Linked DNA regions of Homo sapiens. The protein of the gene in region 1 interacts with the protein of each later gene in a pairwise test. Each region holds a gene or a part of one and is shown in the gene's direction. Other genes may lie near its edges.

The links.
Region 2: the proteins of NR4A3 (region 1) and KRTAP4-4 interact in binary tests that used the Homo sapiens proteins (3 or more experiments, as listed by UniProt).

Annotation. Positions count from the first base shown.
Region 1 is NC_000009.12:99,824,749-99,828,576, forward strand, and holds part of NR4A3 (nuclear receptor subfamily 4 group A member 3), read left to right. Parts: intron 1-910; 5' UTR 911-1,084; intron 1,085-1,981; exon of another isoform or gene 1,982-2,022; coding exon of another isoform or gene 2,023-2,053; intron 2,054-2,599; exon of another isoform or gene 2,600-2,718; intron 2,719-3,292; coding exon of another isoform or gene 3,293-3,294; coding exon 3,295-3,828. UniProt on the Homo sapiens protein: Transcriptional activator that binds to regulatory elements in promoter regions in a cell- and response element (target)-specific manner.
Region 2 is NC_000017.11:41,159,093-41,162,501, reverse strand, and holds KRTAP4-4 (keratin-associated protein 4-4), read left to right. Parts: upstream 1-1,753; 5' UTR 1,754-1,810; coding exon 1,811-2,311; 3' UTR 2,312-2,853; downstream 2,854-3,409.

The DNA of each region.
Region 1 (3,828 bases):
GGAGTTTGGGCACCCAGTTCCTTCCCTGAGGCCTGCTGAGCTGCGCTTTCAGCTACAAAGTTTCGCTGAGGCTGTGGGCTGAGACGCTGGTCCCGGAGCTGCGCTCGGCGCCCTCAGGAATGTGCCCCCGCTAGGCCGCTGGGTGGCCAGGAGCCTCCAAGCCGCCCACCCTCGAAGACACCGCCCTCTGGGTGCAGGGGACCTGCCTCCGCTCGTCCCATCAGCCGCTAACGCCGTCCGCTTCGTCCCCTTGCTTCCAGCGCCAGCCTTCTCATCGCTGTGCCCTTTTGTTTGCTTGACCCCTGGCCCTCGAAACTCGCGGCTAATAGAAGCGAAGCTCCATTAGCATTTAGAATGAAAAGCGCAGACTTTCTTAATTCCTCGGGGCATTCATGCATTCGTTCCGGACCTTGTGCATTTCCTATGCAACGTGTAAAATTTGTATTTGAGGGGTGGGGGCGGGCGGAGCTGGAAAATGGCTTTTTTCCGCTGGTGAACACTCACTGACCCCCCGTATTCGGGCGGAGCTCGTTCCTCAAGTGTTCTGCTTTCTTTGGTTTTCCTGACTTCGTAAGCTCGGAATCAATTGTGGGGGCAGAGAGATCAATTTCTGGGCAATAACAGGCTGCGCGTTTTTTTTTTAGCCTCGGTTTTGGTGCCACAAAACGGTGGTAGGCGCAGTGGGTTCCAACAACCTTTCCTCGGCTTCCCCGAGGCCGTGTGATGCTTCTTGCCCAGGGGGACTCCTGTACCATTAATCACCCTTAATTTTACGATAATTCTTTGTAATTAATGTAACATTTCTAGAGGTTGCCAACCAATTCCCCCAGTCCCCAATGCGCCCAGCCCGGGCCGTAGTGACCCATCCTGGTCTCACTGTGACCTATGTCCTCTTTCACCTTGCCTGTAGAGCCCACTGCGGAAGAGGGCAGCCCGGCAAGCCCGGGCCCTGAGCCTGGACCCTTAGCGGTGCCGGGCAGCACTGCCGGCGCTTCGCCTCGCCGGACGTCCGCTCCTCCTACACTCTCAGCCTCCGCTGGAGAGACCCCCAGCCCCACCATTCAGCGCGCAAGATACCCTCCAGGTAGGTCCGAAGGCAAGACCCTTTTCTCCTCCCTGGCTGAGGGAAGTGGGTGGGGGAACCACACACTCGGCGGGCAGCGTGGTCGACCTGCCCAGTGCCAGGACAGTGACTGCTGGCCGCGAATTTCACAACACAGGTGGCTTCCTCACAGGAAGCTCCTCTGTATACCACACCCTGTTGCTACTGAGTGGAGCAGCCAAATTAAATTAAGCTTGCATTGCTCAAAATTAATTTTCCTAAGAGAAATACAAATACACCAATAGATTAGGGTATTTTATACATTTTTAATTTCATTTTTGCTCTTCTTTTATAGCCAGTGTGCACATGTAAGAGTTATGGAATCACTTAGAGCAATACTGAGCATTTTCATTTATATAAAACCCAAATCATTTGGGTGCAGAAGTTTGGATGATTGAAGCTCAGAGGGAAGGAGAAAAGCATTTGAGATGAAAACCAAAGAGTAAATTTGAGTTTGGCAAAAGAACAGATTGCACTTTTGGTTTGTACCACCTCTTTACAAATTTGTTAAAGGAATACTAGGTGCCAAGCCTGTGTGGGCACCATAGATAATGCAGATAAATAGAATACAATCCCAGCAAGCTCATCTTCTAGCTAGAAACCTCAGAAAGACACAAATAAGAGCAGTAAAAAGGGATTGGCCGGAAAGAATGACAGAAAAGAGTAATGGAGAAATCCTAGAGGTGCTGAAGGGAGAAGGAGAATAGATCAAAGATCAGGCAGTGTTCTTTCTTTTAAATGATTAGCCTTTCATTTCATCCCAACAACTGGACAGCAAGATAAGTAACTGGACTTCAAACTAGTGAGTGTATTTTTAAGGCCCTGCTTGTTAAAGAAAGGCTTGAACTGGCCTCTCCTCATCACTGCTTCTTCCAACAGGCCCTCATCACCTTTTTTCAAGTCAAGATTTCATCCCATACATGCATGACTCAATCAGATTTGGAAATGTGGGTAAGAGAAAGATGTCAAAGGAAATGTGAAGTATTCACTTCTCTATTAGTCACACCTTTTACACCATAGACTCCAAAGAGGCGTTAAGCACCTGGTTTTCCTTTGGCTCAGAAAAACCAACCACCAAAAACCGCCGTTTTTTACCATTTATATTTAGCCATAAAGAAAGAAAAATAATTAGATAAATCATCCACTACATCCAATAATTCTCAGCGCCTTCTCACTCAGTTCAGCCTCTCTGAACAATAGTAAGCACCCTGGATACCAGCCACTTTGGGGGCAACATAGTCAAACTGGCAGAGAAATCAAGTCTATTGAGAAACTGCTTTTTTTCATGGGTACTAATTCTAGTGTCATAAGGAAATACCTATACTAACTTGCCTATTATGATAGTTATAAACTGTTATCACAAAACAGTCACTGATATGTTTTATTAGTTAGAATTGGGATATATATATGTGTGTGTGTGTGTGTGTGTGTGTGTGTGTGTATATATATATATATGGGTGGGTGTTTTGTTGCAGCTGCTGATCTTTTTCTTTGCAGATGGTACAAACTCTCCCGAGTCAATTTCCTGGGCCTATGTCCCCACCTAGCTGACTGAAGTTATCAACAGGGGTCCAGTTTGTGCAGGCTGCTAGCCCTATTGGAAGAGTGGGGATGAGGTGGGAGAAAGCAACCACAACGTGTGTGGGCAACCTCAATTGGCACTCATAAAATGTTAGAATGTCAACTCTCTCCCTTGGCCACTAAATCTCTCACAGGGTAGTTTTTCTTGCCTAACTCAGGTTTACAAATCAATGTGTATGCCTTGGGGGACCAATGGCCTCTTTCCTCCCAAATAAACCACTGGCTTTCTCTTTGTCCCCCTAGGTTATAGCTGAGGAGCCCACTCCAATTAGTTTATAGGATTCAAAGCCTCTTTTTAAAAACATCTCTGAGCTTATGAGGAAAGACTTCAAGTTTCCCAAATCTAGTGGAGGACAGGGCAAGGGAGGAAAGATAGGTACAGGAGTCCACAGGAGGCCAGGTTTTGGCACCCCTTTGTCAGGAATTCAGCTTCCTTACTAGGGATGAAGAAAATAAGTGTGGGGCTTTGTGTCTATGCTACCAGAAGGAGGAGAGGATGACACTTCCTCTCTGTTTCCCAGATTAGAGAACAGTGAACCCAATGCTGCCTGTTGGCTAGAAAACAAGTGTTAACTTGCTTCTGAGAGACCCTTTTCTCTGTCCCTGCAGATATGCCCTGCGTCCAAGCCCAATATAGCCCTTCCCCTCCAGGTTCCAGTTATGCGGCGCAGACATACAGCTCGGAATACACCACGGAGATCATGAACCCCGACTACACCAAGCTGACCATGGACCTTGGCAGCACTGAGATCACGGCTACAGCCACCACGTCCCTGCCCAGCATCAGTACCTTCGTGGAGGGCTACTCGAGCAACTACGAACTCAAGCCTTCCTGCGTGTACCAAATGCAGCGGCCCTTGATCAAAGTGGAGGAGGGGCGGGCGCCCAGCTACCATCACCATCACCACCACCACCACCACCACCACCACCATCACCAGCAGCAGCATCAGCAGCCATCCATTCCTCCAGCCTCCAGCCCGGAGGACGAGGTGCTGCCCAGCACCTCCATGTACTTCAAGCAGTCCCCACCGTCCACCCCCACCACGCCGGCCTTCCCCCCGCAGGCGGGGGCGTTATGGGACGAGGCACTGCCCTCGGCGCCCGGCTGCATCGCACCCGGCCCGCTGCTGGACCCGCCGATGAAG
Region 2 (3,409 bases), on another chromosome or scaffold:
TTGGAAACATGGTTCTGCCATTTGGCATATTCACTTTTTCTTACCTTCATGGCCCCCAAATATTTAGATGAGCATGTTTTATGGAAAGACCCTCAGCAGAGTTGGGGTGTCCATAGTATCCTCAGAGAGACCAGTCCAAACAGAAATTGCTAACCCAAGAGCATCCCAAAGTGGAGGGTGGCACAAAGACAGGAAGTTTCTGCCTTCTTCCTTGGGTTTCTTTAACATCCAGGTTTGGGGGAGTGTGTGTGTGTGTGTGTTTGAGTGTGTGTGTGTGTGTGTGTGCATAATATTCCTAAGGTAAAGGGCCTTAGGAGATAAAGGTAAATACATATATATATAAATATATATATTTCTAAATATGTTATTGTATATATTATATATATATTTATACATACTATTAAATACAAACATATATGAAGAATATATATTATATATTCATAAATATGTAAATATATATATTCCTATATTACCTATATATAAGGTTCTCTATCTACCCATCTATATATGTATAATATATATATATATTCCTAAGGTCCTTTGGCAGAATATATATATTCCCCCAAACCTGTGTGTGTGTGAGTGTATATATATATATACATATACATCAAAAGAAAATTATGGGCCTAGAAGAATTAAAATCACCCAAGGTCAGACATAATGTGTGTGTATGTGTGCGTGTGTGTGTGTATATATATATATATATATATATATACACACACACACGCACACATACACACACATACATACACACACATATATGTGTGTGTATGTGTGTATATTTATATATAGTGTGCATATTTATATATAGTGTGTATATTTATATATAGTGTGTATATACGTGTGTGTGTATACTATATATAGTATATATATGTATATATATAATATATATTATATATATATATATATATTATATATATATAGCAAGGACACTGGGTCCTTTACCTTAGGTTGGCAAGTAAACCTTAGAAATAGAGGAGATGACTCAATGTGATTGTTAAAGCCAGAGAGACAGGAAGGAAAAGTCAGAAGGAAAATCAGCCCCTCAGAGCAGAGAGCGGAGGGACCTGAACCTTTTAGTATAGCTGATCTCTGTAGCCAATTTCCCCTAAAGGCCCTGAAACTGAGTTTTGGAGTGTTGTTTCTCAAGAAAAAGAAGCATCGATAATTCATGACTTAGATGTCCACCTTAAAACAATTCTGCTTTCCCCAGTAGAACATCTAGAAAATGGGTCATGATTCATTGTATGGAAGGTGGCAAGGAATATATCCTAATAGTATTTGTTTTCATGCCACTGGTCACCTGTTTCACATTCAAACCTTCATTGCTCACTTGATCTATAACAAACATGCCATGAGATTAAAGCACAGCTTTCTCCTCCTGAGTCACCAAAAGAAAATTACGGGCCTAGAAGAATTAAAATCACCCAAGGTCAGACATAATGTATTAAGGAAAATGAGGCTGCAGCACATGGTACCTGCAGGCAGATGTCACATGGCAGCTCAAGGAGGAAGCTGCAGCAAGAGGCACACAAGAGGTTGTTCAAGAAGAGCTGACCTGAAGAATCCTAACACACCAGGGGAAGGAAATAATGCTTTTCTCCATGTTGACAAATTTAAGCAGAAAAACAAACTTGCCTAATTTGATAATTGCCTGCTCATCAGAACAAACAATGACAAGGAAAGAGTGCTGCATCCGATGACATCAGCCCTGAGCAGGGTATAAAAGAGGATCTGGGGCAAGGAGACTTCCAAGCCTTCCAAACCCTCCTTCCTGGAAACCCACCCAGAACCTCCACCCTCTGACACCATGGTCAACTCCTGTTGTGGCTCTGTGTGCTCTGACCAGGGCTGTGGCCTAGAGAACTGCTGCCGTCCCAGCTACTGCCAGACCACCTGCTGCAGGACCACCTGCTGCCGCCCCAGCTGCTGTGTGTCCAGCTGCTGCAGACCCCAGTGCTGCCAGACCACCTGCTGCAGGACCACCTGCTGCCACCCCAGCTGCTGTGTGTCCAGCTGCTGCAGACCCCAGTGCTGCCAGTCTGTGTGCTGCCAGCCCACCTGCTGCAGACCCCAATGCTGCCAGACTACCTGCTGTAGGACCACCTGCTGCCGCCCCAGCTGCTGCAGGCCCCAGTGCTGCCAGTCTGTGTGCTGCCAGCCCACCTGCTGCTGCCCCAGCTACTGTGTGTCCAGCTGCTGCAGACCCCAGTGCTGCCAGACCACCTGCTGCAGAACCACCTGCTGCCGCCCCAGCTGCTGTGTGTCCAGGTGCTACAGGCCCCATTGTGGCCAGTCTCTATGCTGCTAGCCCATCTGCTGGCAAACCACCTGCTACAGGACCACCTGCTGCCACCCCAGCTATTGCATTTCCAGCTGCTGCCAGCCTTCCTGCAGTATCTCTAGCAGCAGTAGCTCCTCCTGCTGTGGCTTCAGCTGCTGCAGGCTCTCCTGCTGCATCTCCAGTTGCTGCCGCCCCAACTGCTGCCAGACCATGTGCTGCCGCCCAACCTGCTCTAGTGCTTCTTGCTGCTGAGGCTGTCATCTGGACTCACCAGATTCTCATCAACCAGCATTCTTGATGTAGCTCATCTATGAGCTGAGTTATGGGAAGCTAGTTGGAAAACTTCAGTTCCAACCAATTCTTAGATTGAATCTGGCCTCCAAATATATGCTCCCCCCACATTTTACCTCTCTACCAAATGAACATAAGTTGTAATTTGCTCTGAAATCTGTCAACTATCTTAATTGAAATATTTGCTCTCTGCCATAATTTCTCATATGGAGCTATTCCATTTTAAACAAATATTTATCTAAATAAATCTTAAATAAATTTTCAGGCATAGAAATATACAGATACTGTGTCTCATTATTTTTCTTTTTTGAGTGTGGTCAATTACCAGTCAATTTTTCTGTTGTTCTTCTCTGCAGAATGTAATTTCAGGGGCACCACCTCTATTTCCTCAGCACACTTTATTCTAATATACAATGGTGGTTTCTTAGAGCAAGCACCTGGAACTCTCTTCTTGAAGAGTTTCTCTAGCCAAGGAGCAAGCTCTGGACTGTAGAGTTAAAGCCTCTTGGAATAGTATTCAACAAATGAGTGAGAGTTGGTGAACACATGCTTTAGTTATTTCTCCTCCAGTTGGGAGCATGTTGTACCAGCATGTCAGTGGTCCTCAGAGACACCAAATTCCAGCTACCTACAGGGCTATTCTGATCATTAACTCATCTTGTATTCACTTCCCTCCCTTTCCTGGAGCATTTTTCGTGTTCCATACAGCACTTCTTGGGACCACCTCCCAAATATACTCCTGGGTCGGCTCCAGTGGGGACCCAATCTAAGACACCAGTGTTCCTAACCTCAGTATTAGTGCCCTTCAAAACATTTTTCCTTTTTTATTGATAT